Homo sapiens: one gene and its partners. The protein of the gene in region 3 interacts with the protein of the main gene of each other region in a biochemical or structural test. Each region holds a gene or a part of one and is shown on either strand. Other genes may lie near its edges. The genes, in order: COIL, ING4 and NOLC1.

Evidence for each region.
Region 1: the proteins of NOLC1 (region 3) and COIL form a complex in vitro, tested with the Homo sapiens proteins (one study listed by BioGRID).
Region 2: the proteins of NOLC1 (region 3) and ING4 form a complex in vitro, tested with the Homo sapiens proteins (one study listed by BioGRID).

Annotation. Positions count from the first base shown.
Region 1 is NC_000017.11:56,937,699-56,944,423, forward strand, and holds the end of COIL (coilin), read right to left. Parts: intron 4,426-6,725; coding exon 4,337-4,425; intron 1,457-4,336; coding exon 1,373-1,456; 3' UTR 501-1,372; downstream 1-500. UniProt on the Homo sapiens protein: Component of nuclear coiled bodies, also known as Cajal bodies or CBs, which are involved in the modification and assembly of nucleoplasmic snRNPs.
Region 2 is NC_000012.12:6,649,637-6,653,328, forward strand, and holds the end of ING4 (inhibitor of growth protein 4), read right to left. Parts: coding exon 3,594-3,692; intron 3,415-3,593; coding exon 3,300-3,414; intron 3,135-3,299; coding exon of another isoform or gene 3,132-3,134; coding exon 3,026-3,131; intron 2,783-3,025; coding exon 2,635-2,782; intron 1,750-2,634; coding exon 1,688-1,749; intron 1,599-1,687; coding exon 1,559-1,598; 3' UTR 665-1,558; downstream 1-664.
Region 3 is NC_000010.11:102,155,312-102,162,684, reverse strand, and holds part of NOLC1 (nucleolar and coiled-body phosphoprotein 1), read right to left. Parts: intron 5,667-7,373; coding exon 5,611-5,666; intron 5,500-5,610; coding exon of another isoform or gene 5,497-5,499; coding exon 5,357-5,496; intron 5,255-5,356; coding exon 5,130-5,254; intron 4,637-5,129; coding exon 4,471-4,636; intron 3,493-4,470; coding exon 3,377-3,492; coding exon of another isoform or gene 3,347-3,376; intron 3,253-3,346; coding exon 3,117-3,252; intron 2,790-3,116; coding exon 2,661-2,789; intron 2,453-2,660; coding exon 2,342-2,452; intron 2,234-2,341; coding exon 1,592-2,233; intron 1,130-1,591; coding exon 1,023-1,129; intron 853-1,022; coding exon 760-852; intron 575-759; coding exon 416-574; 3' UTR 1-415. UniProt on the Homo sapiens protein: Nucleolar protein that acts as a regulator of RNA polymerase I by connecting RNA polymerase I with enzymes responsible for ribosomal processing and modification.

The DNA of each region.
Region 1 (6,725 bases), on a different chromosome or scaffold from region 3:
TGGTCCCCCTAAATTGACTTCATAATCCTTCTTGGGGACTCTATTCATAGTCTGACAAACACAACAGAGGAAAGGAGTGACTCATAAACTGATAATAATCTGAGAAAAACACACCCTGAGGTCAAAATTTTCCTTTGGTCAATGTTCACTAGTTATCTTAATTTGTTTTCCAAACCCTGGAAGGCAACTGTGCTACACAGAACCCCAGTGCCAAGATCCCACCGTTCACATTACTCTCATCCTTTCGGGAGTAATACTTCTCATTACAAATCAATAAATGCACATTTTGAAACACATTCATGTCATGCAAAGTAAAACTGGCCAGCATCTCCACTGGCACAGTGGCTCCCAGATCAGATGAACTCCACTGAACCAAACTTTGCAACATCAGACTCATCAGTCAAAGCAAACCTTCTTATTACAGAAAATTGTAATCTCTCACGTTATTGTAAAATAAGACAATAATTTGCAATACTCAACATGATAACTCGGTAGAGATGTTTAGTTCAATATGATTTTATTTAAAAATGTGTACAGCTGAAGGAGGGATCTGATCTTTTGTTAAATGAAACCAATTTTCACGGTATATATTTGGCCATTTTAGCTTCGTAGTGAATAATAACAGAAAAGGAAGTTTCTGTTCAAGATCCTCACTCCAGCACACTCAGCCAGGTGCCTGGCAAGATGACACATTTCCTGGTCTGAAGCTCACAGCCAATCCTCTCACTGAAGTGAAACACCAATTCTCCAGGCATACACACACATACGCACATCTTATTTTCACTGCTCTACACAGGGACCTGAGAATCCTTAATTTTAAAGTTGGGAAAAACGTGAAAGGATTCCTTAACTCATTGTCTGCGACAAATCCAACTACCTGTTAACTCTTAACAATTGCAAGTATAAAATACTTGAAATTTACAAGATGCTCCATTTAATGGAACAACTCAAATGCTAAAAAATTAGGTCAAATAACATGCTTTAATATTTTTAAATGTTACTTAAAACTTATTGAGACAAGATACGCAGCACATTCTTGGTATTATAAACTCCTACTGACGACTGCTACTTGATGGCCAAAAACATTTAAAGAAAGAGAAGAAACCATACTGGTATACAACAATATCTGCAGGGAATGTCATGTTTTACATTTTGTTAACTGAAATTAAACCTGACAAAAAAACCAAAGATCTACAAAACCGACACCCATGTCATTTTAAATGATGAGGTAGATTGTTTCCTATGCAGTAAAGTGAAGATAACAAAAAAATCCATACAACTTCCAAATCCTCTTTAAAAAAAAAAAAAAGTTTGGGTTATAGTCACTTTCACAAACAAGACATTCATAAACTATAAGGTGGAGAGGTCATACTCAGGCAGGTTCTGTACTTGATGTGTTACTTGGAGATTCAATAATCAGTCTTGGGTCAATCAACTCTTTCCAAAATACAGTGATCTGAGGAAAAAGACAAAATACCCAGTTTAGGCACTTCATTTTGAGGTCATACCGGTTAATTCAGCCACGTAAATTTTCCGTCTGTGTAGAATGATTGAAGAACGGGAATAATTTGGGTTCCAATAAACTGAGTTCAATTGCAGTATAGTAACTCTTTAGGCCAGGCGCTGTGGCTCACACCTGTAATCCCAGCAATTTGGAAGGCCGAGGGGGAGAAATGCTTGAGCCCAGGAGTTCAAGATCAGCCTGGGAAACCTAGTGAGACCCCATCTCTATTATTTTTTTTAATTAAAAAACAAAACAAAAAAAAAGAGGCCAGGCATGGTAGCTCACGCCTATAATCCTAGCACTCTGGGAGGCCAAGGCAGTCGGATCATCTAAAGTCAGGAGTTCAAGACCAGCCTGGCCAACCTGTGTCTCTGCAAAAATACAAAAATTAGCCGGGCATGGTGACGCATGCCTGTAGTCCCAGCTACTCGGAAGGCTGAGTCAGGAGAATCGCTTGAACCCAGTAGGTGGAGGTTGCAGTGAGCGGAGATCGCGCCACTGCACTCCAGCCTGGGTGACAGAGTGAAACTCTGTGCTGGGAAAATAAATAAATAAATAAATAAATAACTCATTTACTTAGAATGAAGCTAAATTTTACATTAAACATATTTCATCTTTCTTTGATTAAGAGCAGGAGATGCAGGGGTTGCGGGAGGGAGTAGCTCCCCCAACCCCTGCATTTGATTTGCCCTGTGGACAGGTGGCCTGGAGACCTTCTGGCAACTAGACATGGTCCAGATGGGTATCATTAGGCTGCTGATGCCCTTTTGCGCCGCTCTGTAGTTCTTATCCTACACTACCTAAAAACAGGAACTATTTCACAGCCCACCAAGAGAAAAACTCTAAGGCTTGGTCCTATGAATGAATAATGAGGGCCATCTAGTGTCAAAAAAGGTAATTACAGGCTTTTTGTTTTTGAGATAGGGTATCACGTCTATAGTCCAGGCTGGAATGCAGTGGCATTCAGGACTCACTGCACCTTCCACCTCCTGGGCTCAAGCGATCCTCCTGCCTCGCCCCCACCACCCCCAAAGGTGGCTGGGACTACAGGCATGTGTCACCACTCCCGGTTAATTTTTGTATTTTTTTGTAGAGACGGGGTCTCGCCATGTTGCCCAGGCTGGTCTTGAACTCCTGGACTCAAGGGATCGGCCCGCCTCAGCCTCCCAAAGTGCTGTGATTACAGGCATGAGCCACGGTGCCCAGCCTAATTACAGGCTTTCTATTCTACTTCAAGTCTCTGTTTAGGGCATAGAGAGAAAAGCCTCCAAGGTTTAATTTTCCAATGCGGTTTCCAATTTCAACCAAAAAAAACTATTGCAAATAAAGAAATACAGGAGACCAGGCCAAATCTGCTGATCCTACCACAAACACTAAAAATGTGTTTCTGGAATAAATCCCTAAAAGTGTCATCTACCTTAAAGACAAGGTAAAACACAGTCTGGCTAGGGTTTCTACAAGTTCACACTTCAGAAAAAATATGTTTGCAATATTGAAACTTACAGAATAATATCTATAACATTTCAAGTATAAACACCTTAAAAGAGAGCATTTTCTTAAATCTAACTTCCATTTAATGCCACCATAACCTAATGAGCTAGCCACTGCCAGCAACTCTGGTAGGTCTGGCTGCTTAAAAAGGTATAAATCGGCCGGGCGCGGTGGCTCACACGTGTAATCCTAGCACTTTGGGAGGCCGAGGCGTGCAGATCACGAGGTCAGGAGATTGAGACCATCGTGGCCAACGCGGGGAAACCCTGTCTCTAGTTAAAAAAATACAAAAAATTAGCCAGGCGTGGTGGCAGGCGCCTGTAATCCCAGCTACTCGGGAGGCTGAGGCAAGAGAATGGTGTGAACCCGGGAGGCGGAGCTTGCAGTGAGCGGAGATCACGCCACTGCACTCCAGCCTGGGTGACAGAGCTAGACTCTGTCTCAAAAAAAAAAAAAAAAAAAAAAGGTATAAACCATATACTTCCCAAAATGGCAATTTAAGGATTTAAAGAAAGTCAGAGGATGAGATCATCATTTTATGTCACTCTTCAAACTGTTGTGCTATTATAAGTTGGAACTCTCGGGCCAGGCATGGTGGCTCACCCAGGCACGGTGGCCTGTAATCCAACACTTTGGGAGGCCTAAGTGGGCAGATCACTTGAGGTCAGCAGTTCAAGACCAGCCTGGCCAACATGGTAAAACCCCGTCTCTACCAAAAATATAAAAATTAGCTGGGTGAGGTGGCAAGCGCCTGTAATTCTAGCTACTCCAGAGGCTGAGGCATGAGAATCGCTCGAACCTGAGAGGTGGAGGTTGCAGTGAGCCAAGATCATGCCACTGCATTTCAGCCTGGGCAACACAGTGAGACTCTCTCAAAAAAACAAAAGTTGGAACTGTGGTAACACTTGGGGGATAGTGGTGACAGCAAGGGGACATAATAGAGGCTTCTGGGAGTGGGTGTTATGTTCTATTTCCTGATCTGGGTCTGGTTACATGGGTATGTTCATGTGAAAGTTGTTCAAGCCATGTAGTTATATGCACTTCTCTGAACGTGTATGCCAATAAAGTTTCTAAATATGCTACCCTTTCCTACTGGAATCCTTATATAGCTATAATTTTAAACAACTGTACACTCTTAAAGAAAAGTTTGTTATTTGTGCATCTTGTCACATAGGCTCTATGAGGGCCAAGATGGCGCCCTGATTTGGCACTGGTATTGCCACACCATAAGAAGGTCAGATTCCCCCCAGGGCCTGTAGTGCAATGTCACCTTCCAAACCACAGGTAATTGGTCAAGAGAGAACGAATGGCCAAGCAACGCAAGAAGAGAAGCACACCTACCTTGCTCTCCTGTGTCACAGCGTACTCCACTACCTCGGCTCCATTTTCATTGTGATAAACTAAATCAAATTTCCCAGGTTCTCTCAAGGCTGAAACAAGAAGATAGGGAGGAAAGAGAGTAAGTCATTTTTCAATAGTTAAAAATGTTCCTCTATGGGGAATTTATATCATTAAGAAAACAACCACAAACAAACTGTCAATTAATGTGAAGGCTGGGTATGTACAGGAAAGCACAGGGTGCTCAATACTGGGGGATCCTGAGAAAAACTCTGGACCAGGGGGACTTCTCAGCCATTTATCAGAGAAAATCTTTCCTTCATAAGCTTGATGAACTGTCATTAGTACTACCAGAATTGAATATGGCACCACAAGATAATCCCCAAAATTAATTAATTTATGTGTTTCAACAAGGGAAGGTAATATGAAATGCTGCTCTGTCCTTAGAAATCACATATGCTTCCTACTACTTGGTAACACAGGCAGTCCCCCTTTTTTTTTTAAGACAGAGTCCTGCTTTATCGCCCAGGCTGTAGTGTAGTGGCGCAATCTCGACTCACTACAACCTCTACCTCCTGGGTTCAAGTGATTCTTGTGCCTCAGCCTCCTGAGTAGCTGGGATTACAGGCATGCACCACTATGCCCAGCTAATTTTTGTATTTTTAGTTGAGACAGGGTTTCACCATGTTGGCCAGGTTGGTCTCAAACTTCTGGCCTCAAGTGATCTGCCCGCCTCGGCCTCCCAAAGCGCTGGGATTACAGGCGTGAGCCACCACACCCGGCCTCAGTCCTTGCTTTCTATGGTAAAATGGGATTGGAAAAATGACTGTGCAAGCTGAAACCACGCAAAACAATCTTAATAATCAATAGGAAAAATTATTATCGTCTTACGAGTTTTAAAAAATTTTGCCAAAACATTAAAAACCTTTACTACATAGGGAAATTAAAAAATAGTAAAATAAATATATTGTACTTATGAGTACACTGTAATTACATTAGGAACACTAAGAACTAACTTTCTTTTTCTCTTTCCTTCTACACGTTTTATTTCTTTGTAAGAAACTTATCAGGGGGAGTTTGAACAGTGCTTGTGTTCTTGCCCTGTAACTTACAATACAGAGCAAGCATCTTCTCTATGCTTTGTGCAACTGTTATACTCTTTTCTAAGTTTGAAACTGCTTTCTACATTTTATCCTTTGAACTTCTAATGTCGTGAAATAGCTCAAAGAATTTGTTTTTTACTTTGTAAAATCTTTGTTTTTGCTGGTGTCACTTTGGGGACATTTTCATCCTTTTTGCCACAACCACTTTCCTCATTTATGTCAATAAGTTCACCTCACTGGCAGTGTCAACATTCCTACAGTGAGCTATTTCTTCTACAGACTCTCCTTAAACTCAGTTTGGATGGCACTTTCAGCATTACCACTTTTGTTTCTTTGCTGTGCCTTTATCTTTGTGGGCCAATTCCCTACTTCGATTATACGTGTTGTAAAATGTCATGCAGGTTTATAAGTGAGAGACAAGGAGGCACCACAACTGCATGCTCTGCTCTGTATGTGAACTGAATAACAGATGCACAGTGACCAGTCACTGACGGACTCTGAAAGTACTGACTTGACTGGTAATGGATCATGACGCGTATCTGTTATTTATGTTATATAGTGATATGTGGACTAAAGAGCTAGCAGTACTTCATGCACTTACAGTTAACATATGCAATGTTGCTGGGGGACTAGTATTACTTAACTAAACCAGGGTAACTGAAATATATGTATATCAGAACCACCACATCAAGGACAAGTGACATTGCTATTAGAGAACAGATAAATCCATTTCTTTCTTTCTTTTTTGCTTTTGAGACAGGGTCTTGCTCACTCAGCCTGGAGTGCAGTGACGCAATCATGACTCACTGCAGCCTCGACCTCCTGGGCTCAAGTGATCCTCCCACCTCAGCCTCTCAAGTAGCGAGGACTACAAGCATGTACCACCACACTCAGCTATGTTTTGTTTTTTTTTTTTACGACAGAGTCTCACTATGCTGCCCAGGCTGGTCTTGAACTCCTGGGCTCAAGTGATCCTCCCACCTTCGCCCCCGAAGCCATTTCTTGATGCCCTAAAGAAGAAAAGTTCTAAGTGGATGTCATCACTATTAATCACCTGACAAGCACTGATCAGGCTGTATGCACAGAATTTGACAGTGGACAAACTTTTCTGTCCACCGTTCCTAAGAAAGGGGATTTCTATAAATGAAATCTCATCAGAAGAAAGGTTGGAAACCTGGCCAGGCACGGTGGCTCATGCCTGTAATCCCAGCACTTTGGGAGGCTGAGGTGGGAGGATCACGAGGTCAGGAGATCGAGACCGTCCTGGCTAACACAGTGAAACCCCATCT
Region 2 (3,692 bases), on a different chromosome or scaffold from region 3:
TATTTATTTTTTTGAGACGGAGTCTCACTCTATCGCCCAGGCTGGAGTGCAGTGGTACAATCTCAGCTCACTGCAACCTCTGCCTCCCAGGTTCAAGCGATTCTCCTGCCTCACCCTCTCGAGTAGCTGGGATTACAGGCACCCATGACCACGCCCAGCTAATTTTTGTATTTTTGGCCGAGACCGGGTTTCGCCATGTTGGCCAGGCTAGTCTTGAACTCCTGACCTCAGGTGATCCACCTCCCTTGGCCTCCCAAAGTGTTGGGATTACAGGCGTGAGCTACCGGGCCTGGCCTACTTTAAAAAAAATTTTAAAAAATGAAAAAAAGAAATCAGCTTGGGTGCTGTGGCTCACGCCTGTAATCCCAGCACTTTGGGAGGCCAAGGCAGGCAGATCATGAGGTCAAGAGATGGAGACCATCCTGGCCAACACGGTGAAACCCTGTCTCTACTAAAAATACAAAATTAGCTGGGCGTGGTAGCATGTGCCTGTAGTCCCAGCTACTTGTAAGACTGAGGCAGGAGAATCACTTGAACCCGGAGGCGGAGACTGCAGTGAGCCAAGATCACGCCACTGCACTCCAGCCTGGCAACAGAGTGAGACTTCGCCTCAAAGGAAAAAAAAAAAGAAGTCAAGCTAATGTATAGTATAGCAGTACGTATGTATAGCACAAATACATCATTTATTGGAAATTAAGTGAAAGATGTTTTATGGAGAAAAGATGCATGATTTACAAAGTTTTGGAGACCCCCTGGTCTGAGGCCTACCCTCCAGCACCTCTGTCTTTCCCAAGTTGAGAACTTACAAGTTCTCGGACAGAGGCACCACTCTGGTTTCATGTCGTGTCCTAATTCTGGCATGCCATCCTCTCACATTGCATCCAACCCAGAGGACGCAAAATGAATGCTCAGCATGTTTACTAAAACAGTGTCTCTACAATAAACACAGCAGGCCAACATGTATAGCTTTTATTTACCTACCCAAGTTCCTTTTACATGTGAGTTATCTGCATTCCACCTTGCCCCCTCTCCCAGGATGAATCCTCTTGGCACAGAGGAAGGGGTGCCCCTTCAACTAGGGCCAGAGCCTAGATGACCTGGTGGATCCCCCACCATGAAAAAAGCAGGAAGGGAATGGAGAAGAAAAGTGTTGATCACACCTAGCCCTCACCACAGGAGGGGGAATGAAGAGGTCTGGGGGACTGCCCCCATGCTATGCCCCAGTCCTTAAATACAAAGCAAGGAGAATGAAAAGGACCCTCCCTCTGAAATACAGCACCGACCTCAGCATGGAGGCAAAAGGACAGTGGGCAAGACCACGTCCCTCCGAAGGGAGAGGGCTGAAGGAGAGCACATACCGTTAGTGGCTGCGGCACCCCTCCCTACCAGGGTCTGATGCAGCCTCAGCACCGGGAGTGGGGAGAGGGGAGGAGAAGGGATGACAGCACTGTGCCATCCACTCCTCCCTGAACCCCTGGCCCCAGCACAGGCATTCCTCTGCCCACTAGCCCAAGTCAGGGGATGTGGAAGAAACTGTGTTGGAATCCAAGGCCCTTATCTATTTCTTCTTCCGTTCTTGGGAGCAGCGTGGGCAAAACCTGAAACAGAGAAGGGGAGAGAAAAGTGAGTGAAAGGGAGAATGCCCTTGACCACTCAACTTAGGGACCCTCCAACTCCTGCCACTTACCATTTCCCCCGAGGCTTGGTTGTCAGCCCCACACAGGCAAAATGGAACCACTCAATGGAACACTGGAAGAGGAAGAAAGAAGTAGTCAGGGGCCAGGAAGGGCCAGAGGAAGGAGAGAAAGCCCCTCCAGATTCCTTAGGAACATCCTGTCCTTTACTCCATCCTTTTGGAGAATTCTTGGAAGTCCCAAGGCCAACCAGTTCCCACCATCTTCCTTCTATTCTTTTTTTCTTTTTGAGGCAGAGTCTCACTCTGTTGCCCAGGCTGGAATGCAATGACATGATCTCAGCTCACTGCAACCCCCGCCTCCCGAGTTCAAGCTATTCTCCTGCCTCAGCCTCCCAAGCAGCTGAGATTACAGGCACAGGCTATCATGCCTGGCTAATTTTTGTATTTTTAGTGGAGACGGGGTTTCACCGTGTTGGCCAGGCCAGTCTCGAACTCCTGATCTCAAGTGATCTGCTCACCTTGGCCTCCCAAAGTGCTGGGATTACAGGCGTGAGCCACAGCGCCAGGCTTTCAGGCTTTTTTTTTTTTTTTTTTTTTGAGACAGAGTCTTGCTCTTGTCGCCCAGGTTAGAGTGTGGTGGCGTGATCTCAGCTCACTGCAACCTCTGCCTCCTAGGTTCAAGCAATTCTCCTGCCTCTCGCCTCAGCCTCCCGAGTAGCTGGGATGACAGTCGTGTGCCACTATGCTCAGCTAATTTTTGTATTTTTAGTAGAGAAGGGGTTACACTATGTTGGCCAGGCTGGTCTCAAACTCCTGACCTCACGTGATCTGCCCGCCTCAGCCTCCCAAAGTGCTGGGATTTCAGGCAAGAGCTACTACGTCCAGCCCATCTTTCTTCTATTCTGAAGTCCCAGTACTCAACTGTGGGATTTTCCCTCTTGTACCCACTCCCTTCATGCCCCTCACAACCCCCCATCCTAAGGCAAAATGTTTCTCACATCAGGGTTGTCACAGCCAATCATCTCTCCATAGGAGACCTGGTGACAAAGGCAATAGGTGGGTTCGTTGGGATCCACAGGCATATCCAACACATCAGAGGGGTGGACACTGCCAAAGGTCACTGAGGGCATCCCATACTCAGGACTTCTGCATGCCAAGAGGAAGAGAAAGTGTCATCTACAGGAAGGGAAGCTAAAGCCTGAGGCTTTCAGAGGTGGCAGGAGATCCTGGTAGGGCAAATGATTTGTGGCTTCTCCAGCAGATACCAAAATGATAAGAAGAGTTCTTGGCGCAGACATATAGAAAGCGGCAGGGGGCGGTGCAGGCTGGGAGTGGGGCACCGGGAGAGAAGAGGATGTCATCCGGCAAAGGGCTCCCTGAATCACTCACGTGCGCACGAGCTTTAACTTCTTCTGGGCAGTCTTGGGGGCTTCTTCATCCGAGTTTTTCCCTTTGGAACGAGCACGAGCAGCTTTCTTCTCCTTTTGAGTCCGGCCTTCTAGGGAAGAGGGAGAAAGCCAGAAGGCAGGGAGACAGAAAGATGGGTTAAGTCCTCTTCTCTCCCCCTTTCCAACCTGGTGCCAAACTTCCCACCAGATGAAGAGCTGACTTCTTCTCCCTTTCAGTCCTCGCCCCACCTCTCACAGCCCCGCCCCCTCCTCACTCTTTTTGCCTTTGCTGGAAGAGCTGTCATAGTCACTTGACTCAATCTGTTTCTCCTTGAGATCAGCCTCAAAACGGGCCAGGTCTGTGTCCAGCCGCCGAATGTGTTTGTCCACCTGGGTGGAAAGGAAGGAGAAAGGAGAGGTACAAAACTATCTCCAATTAAAGAAAATAGGTTAAGGCAGAGTTTATGGATCTCACAGACCCCAAACAGATCCCAACACAGTTGAAGGAGGGGTCTAAGACCCTGAGGATTAGATGGGAAGTAGGTGGGGAGCCATGAACAGGGCCATACCATCTCATAGGTCTGCATGGCAAGCTGCACCTTGTCGTCACCAAATTCCTTGCACTTGCCATAGGCTTCCTGGATCTGTTTGAGAAGGGCCAATTTTTC
Region 3 (7,373 bases):
AGTCACACGTGACCCTTTACTATGTTTTGGGCAATAGCCAAGATTTTATCTGTGGGAATCCACCTTTGAAAATCACAACAAAAATCAATAGTAAGTGATTTAATATAAAATATACAAATTTCTCAGTATGAGGACTTTCACAGAAAAGGAAGGAGACAACAATGAAAATGAATTTTCTTAAAAAATAACATTCCCTTATTTTGTCCCTGCTACTCAACACTCAAAAACAAGTCTGTACAAAACTAGGAACACAGAAAAGGACCAGAGAGGATGTTACACTGTAAAGTCTTAGGACCTACTCTAAACTTCTGTCCTCATCAAGACCCTCACCTAGAGACCTGAGGGTTCCCAGGTCCACTGGAGAAAGTAAGTAGTCTCCGATCATCACCCTTGCTTCACCGAAGATGGCCTCAGGTCACTCGCTGTCAAACTTAATAGAATTGACCTGGACAGAGATTGAGCCTCCCCGGTAGCTGCCCCGCTTCTTCTTGGTTTTCTCATGCCGAAAGGACTTGCCTTTGGTGAACTTCAAAACCTGATTGGCTCGCTCTCCCCAGTCTCCGGCTGCACCTCGCTGGTAAGTAGAGAGGGAGATTAACACAGAGGAGGACCATGCTGGAGCCCTGTCACTTTATTCTTTCTACTCCCTGCTCAAGGAAACCTGAACCCAGAGAAGATTCCCACCAACCTGAACCAAGAATTGTCCTCTCTGACACTACCCATCCTCCCTCCCAAGAATGGCACAGATCTCTCTCTCACCTTGGCATCAAAGGAGTTGTCCGCAACTCGTGAATCCACCTCAATTTCCTCCTCCCTGACCCTTCGGAATGGGGATGATGCCCTTTTTTCTCCCTACAGAAGAATGAAGTAGGAAATTAAAGACAGAGTGGTCATGTAACAGTTCTCCTGAGTGATACACATGGGCACATGTACCAGGTCACGCCAGGCAGAGCTGTCAAGATGATCCTAGATTTTTCTACTTTTAAAGAGCTGGCTCCTGAGAAGAAAGTGAGACAACTTACTTTCTTCCTTTTTGGAAATGTGTTAGGGGTCTGAAGCTTTATCTTCTTGGCCTGAGGAGTCTCTGCCTCCTTGGCAGCCTCATTCTGCTTCCGCTTCTTTAATGAACCTACAAAACAAAAAGCCAGACTCAGGCCGAGTACAGTGGCTCACAACTGTAACCCCAGCATTTTGGGAGTCCAAGGTAGGAGGATCGCTTGAGCCCAGGAAATTCAGATCAGCCTGGGCAATATAGTGAGATTCTGTCTCTATAAAAAGTTAAAAAAATGAGCCAGACATGGTGGTGCATGCTTGTAGTCCCGGCTACTCAGGAGGCTGGGGTGGAAAGATCACCTGAGTCCATGAGGTTAAGGCTGCACAAGCCGTGATCATGCCATTGCACCCTGGTCTGGGTGACACAGTGAGACTCTAATAAAAAAAAAAAAAGGTAACCAGTTTCCTGTTCTTCCTCCCAGTTTCCACAACTGGAAGCCCAGTGGTGGGCCTCCTCTCACTACCCTACTCTCAAAGAGTATATCCCATCCTGATTTGGGGGGACAAAACCCAGAGGGCATGTTCATTGGGTACAGACCTGATTTGGAAACTACCACTGCCGCCTTTTTCTTTTCTTCTTCCTCCTCCTCACTGTTCTTAGCTGCTTTTCCATTCTGGGCAGTCAGTGCAGAGGTGCCATTGGCCTTGGGGGCTTGTGGTCTTGGAGAGCCCTTGCCCTTGAGCTTCTCTTCCTCTTCCTCACTGGAGTCATCAGAAGAAGAACTGTTGCTGCTCTCAGCCTTTCCTTTCTTTGCAGAGGCTGGCTTGGAAGGGGCTGCACCTCCTGCTACCTTCTGTGGCTTCTTCTTAACTGCAGACTTAGATGTCTTCTCTTCCTCCTCCTCACTGCTGGAGCTGTCTGAATCAGAGCTGCTGTCCCTACTACCCTGAGGAGCCTGCTTGGCAGGCAGAGATAGAGCTGCTTTGGCAGTCGCCTTGGGCTTAGTGGTGGCCACCATCTTCTTTGTCTTCTCCTCCTCACTGGAGCTGCTCTCTTCCTCACTGGAGCTGCTGTCAGCCTTTCTCGTCAGAAGCTTCTGGCCACCGCCCACAGGTTGCTTGGGGGCTGCAGCTGGCTTCACTGCAGGTGACTTGGTGGTGACAGCTGGCTTATTTGAAGAATTCTTGGTGGTACCAGCTGGCTTAGAAGGAGCTTCATCATCCTCAGAGCTGTCAGAGTCTAGACACAGAAGGGATGGAATCAACAGCTCCCCAAATTGGATTCAGGGGAGCCCTTAGCAGCTGCCTGAGAGCATCTCACTGAACTGAGGGCCTCCATATGCCTTACCTGAGCTGTCTGAAGAGCTCTCTGCTGCTTTCTTTGCTGGAGGTGGTTTAGTGGTTGCTTTAGAGACTACTGCCTTAGTTGGGGGTTTCTTCTCTTCTTCAGAACTTGAATCTGAGGAGAACCTGTAGCATTATGCTGGGTCCAGAGTCCCAACCCAACCAGGACAGCAATAAAAAGAATGCAAAGACACGCACAGAGCCTTAGCTCTGTCTTGCTTTAAGCAAAAAGCAACCGAAGGATGGAAGGCTTTCTCTCTCCCTTATTCCTCATCCCCTCCTCCAGACCCACGCTGAGGGGAGGCTGCATCCCTCTGACTCACCAGACTCATCACTGCTGTCTTCACTGCTTTCCACAGGCTGCTGCTTCTCCACAGCCTTCTTGGGAGGCTGGGTTCCCAGAGACTTCTTTGGTGGGGGAGCAGAAGGCGGGGGGACTGAACTGTAGGGACCTGTTTAAAAAGGATAGTGTGATGGTTTTAGGATATGTCTACAACTTTTTTTGATACTACTTTCTTGTAGAAATGAAGCTTAATTCCCCTTCACTTGAGTATGGGCCAGAATCAATGACTCAGTTCTAACAGAACATGGTGTCACCTCTGAGTCTAGGTTACACAAGGCACTGGAGATTTCTCCTTGCTTTCCTGGATCACTAGTGCTCGGAGAAGCTAGCTGTCATGTCATGAGGACGCTCATGCACCTCTATGGAGAGGTCCATGTGGTTACTGCAGCTGGGCCCTGACCACAGTCACACAGCTTCGCTCCCCATGTCCAGTCACCTGGTTTATTTTTCATGGGTTTTTTTTGCTCCTCTTCCTCGTCACTGGAGGAATCCTCACTGCTAGAACTCTTCCGGGTAGGGGTGGTAGCTGCTTTCACTGGGGCCTTGGCCACAACTTGCTTTTTAGGTACAGTCTGCATTAGAAAGAAAATTGATTACCACAGGAAAATGCTGACCCAACCAATCCTGCCAGGGAAGGAAGACACACACACATCACACCCTGGTCACCTCTGCCCTGACAGAAGTTATGGTCCAGACCTTCTTGGGGGTGGCTGCTGCCTTCTCCTCCTCTGAGTCATCACTGCTACTGCTGCTGCTGCTGCTACTGCTGCTACTGGCTGCTTTACCATTGGCTATTTTAGGTGCTGCTCGAGCTGGAATACCCAAGAAAAAGAAAGAGTAAGGAGTATTAGGGCAAGTCAGGACCATGAAAAACCTCCTTCCTATGAGCAGAGAACTTAGGAGTCCACCATTTTTTTTTTTTTTTTTTTTTTTTTTTTTGGAGACGGAGTCTGGCTCTGGCTCTGTTGCACAGGCTAGTGTGCAGTGGTTCAGGCAACTCTCCCGCCTCAGCCTCTGGAGTAGCTGGGATTACAGGTGCCCACCACCATGCCCAGCTAATTTTTATATTTTTAGTAGACACAGGGTTTCGCCATGTTGGCCAGGCTGGTCTTGAACTCCTGACCTCAAGCAATCCGCCCGCCTCAGCCTCCCAAAGTGCTGGGATTATAGGTGTGAGCCACTGTGCCTGGCCAGGAGTCCACCAATTCTTTCAACTTTAGAGCAGCCATCGAGGAGAATGCCAGCCATGGTTTACCACATCAAAGGATACCTTTCCTATCCCATGGCAGGAATAAAACTGTCTTCTTAGAAAAGATGACATAAATAATCTCAATACGCCCTCTAAAATCTTTCACTTCAACCTCCATTCAGAGAAATAACCTAACCCTCATCACAAGTTACAGAAAAAAAGAAAAATTCTCATTTGTCTCATAGAATGAACATACAAGAGTAAAAATGGCAGTGAAAAGCACAACAAATAGATATTTAAGTGATTACAGTGGAATGGGATGTGTGAAAACATAAAATGTCTATGAAATGTCACAAAATACCAAATGGATACCATTAAAAAAAATACACATTTTTTCTTGCTGCAATAACTTTCTCTATTTACTAGCTCCTATGAAATCTTGTTATTTATTAGTAAAACCTTTAAAATTAAAAGACCAGTAATCAACACCTCCAGTTCAACAAACAGTACCATTTCACCCCTGTGCCAAATCGGCAATTTTAACTCCAGTCCCCAGAGCAATCTGGTCCCCAGCCCAGCCTCTTGGGAACAGAAACAGTACCTGGTTTGGGAGGGGCTTTAGTCTGAGCTTTAACTGTCACAGGTGTTATCTTTGGCTTCTGGTTCTTTGGTGGCTCATCCTCGGAGCTTGAGTCAGAATCAGAATCAGAGCTCTTGGCCTTCTTAGGAGGAGCTTTGGCTGCCTTGGCTTGGGGCTTAACTCCCTTCTGTTAGAAAAGACACAAGGAGAGAAATCAGCAAAAGCTTCCGGGTACCCAAAGGGCATCCTAGGTTCCTTTTATTTTTAGGGGCCTAATGGAGCAGTAAGAGCAAAAGAAAGCTAAGGACAGGATACGGAAAGGGCAAAAAACAACAAAGTTCAGCCACTTGATACACTGGCCCTGTTCCTGCCTTATCCTGCCAAAGCTCCCAGGAAAACACTCTCTCTTATTCTTGGAGCCCTGAATAGTGTCCCAGAAGAACCCAAACTCCTCAAGCAGAATGGGTTTAATTTCCTCTAGATTCGGAGCCTGACCTCAACCTCACACATCCCTTCCAGACCTCATACTTTTATCAGCTCCCTGAAAATCCCCAGATTTTCTTCCTCATAATCACCTATTGTATTGCCGCCATCACCCCTTGGTTACAAGCTAGAGGCCAAGATTTTAGGTTTCTTCCTTTCTAATCCTTAAACCCCTTTTTCTTCCCAAAGCTGCAAACCTGGACAGGCTGTTTCTTTTGGTCCTCCTCATCATCATCATCACTGGACTCTTCACTGCTGCTACTCTCTGATGCTTTGGCTGCAGCCTTCCCAGGAGGCAGACCGACTCGCTTGGCAGGTACAGCTGAACAAACACACAGGTCCCAGTAAGAATCAGCCATGTGAAACAAGCAGGCTGTAAATTCTTTTCCTGGCACCACCAAGCCCACCTGCTACTCTGCCTTACCAGCCTTCTTTGCTGGAGGCCCTTGAACTTCCTCCTCCTCCTCGCTGCTGTCCTCACTGTCACTGGATGAGGCCTTCTTCTTAGCTTTCTTAGCCACTGGTCCATTTGCCTGTAACTTTCGCTCTGGGACCTTGGCAGACCTGCTGAGGTAGATTGGACCAATTTCTAGGGGACTGGAATCTTCCCAAACCAAGAAACACAGCCCAGCCTATCTTGGGGGAGAAAATAGCCAAAATGGAACAGGAAAGGCTTACTTGAGCCAGAAGCTATAGATGTCTAAGAGGGAAGAGGCATTGGCATCCTGCTGTGTCTGTAGAAGAAAAAGAGCTGGGTAAGGAAATTATTTTATCCTGGTTATGCTTTCATTAAATGTGGCCTGTTACATACATAATTACTAAATTTGGTATAAATGTTACATCTTCATAAAACTTTTGCTACGTGCATAAATCAGGAGAAAAATATTCTATTTGTGGATTTCCCAATTTCTGATGTAAAAAACGGGCTACTCCTATGTTTGCGGCACCATCTAACCATCTAACCCCCTGCCTGCCAATCTATATTGATCAAAGTCCTAAAACAAAACAAAACAAAAAATCAGCCAGTCACGGTGGCTCATGCTTGTAATCCCAGCACTTTGGGAGGCCGAGGCAGGCAGATCAAGAGGTCAGGAGTTCAAGACCAGCCTGGCCAACATGGTGAAACCCCATCTCTACTAAAACAAAAATTAGCCCAGCATGATGGCAGATGTCTGTAGTCCCAGCTACTTGGGAGGCTGAAGCAGGAGAATTGCTTGAACCTAGAAGGCTGAAGCAGGAGAATCACTTGAACCTAGGAGATCGCGCCACTGCACTCCAGCCTGAGCAACAAGAGCAAGACTCCATTTCAAAAAAAAAAAAAAATCACTTTTGACTGGGCACAGTGGCTTATGCCTGTTATCTCATGTTATCTCAGCACTTTGGGAAGCTGAGACAGGAGGATCACTGGATGCCAGGAGTTCAAGACCAGCCTAAGCAACATAGCAAGACCCCCATCTCTACCCCTCTGCCAAAAAAAAGGCTCTCTCTTTACTCTAGCAATGTACTATCTAAGAATGTAATCTTATCCATTACTTGAGGGTACAAACACTAATACAAGAAGGTTTTTCCTGCAATGTGGATTATAATACCAAATCATTAGAAATAAGCCTCCAGGCGGGATGCAGTGGCTCACGCCTATAATCCCAACACTCTGGGAGGCCAAGGCGGGCAGATCGCCTGAGGCCAGGAGTTCAAGACCAGCCTGGCCAACATGGAGAAACCCTGTCTCTTAGCCGGGTGTGGTGGCAGGCGCCTGTAATCCCAGGTACTCGGGAGGCTGAGGCAGAAGAATCGTTTGAACCCCAGAGGCGGAGGGTGCAGTAAGCTGAGATCGCGCCACTGCACTCCAGCCTGTGCGACAGACCAAGACTCTGTCTCAAAAAAAAAAAGAAAGAAACAAGACTAGTAAGTACTGTATTGAATGTAAAGAACTGCATTTAAGGGCCAGGCACGGTGGCTCAGGTCTGCTGTAATCCCAGCACTATGGGAGGTCGAGGTAGGCAGATCATGATGTCAGGAGTTTGAGACCAGCCTGGCCAACATGGTGAAACCCCATTTCTACCAGAAACACAAAAAATTAACTGGGCATGGTGGTGCACACCTGTAATCCCAGCTACTCAGGAGGCTGAGGCAGGAGAATCGCTTTAACCCAGGAGGCTGAGGTTGCAGTGAGCCAGTATCACACCATTGTACTCCAGCCTGGGCGACAGAGTAAGTCTCAAAAAAAAAAAAAAATGCATTCAGGCCGGGCGCAGGTACGCTAACACTTTGGCAGGCCAAGGCAGGAGGATCACTTAAGGACAGGAGTTCAAGACCAGCCTGGGCAAGACAGTGAGACCTCCATCTCTCTCTCTCTCTCTTTTTTTTTTTTTGAAATGGAATTTCGCTCTTGGTCGCCCAGGTTGGATTGCAATGGCACTGCGGTTGCTTGGCCTGTGGTG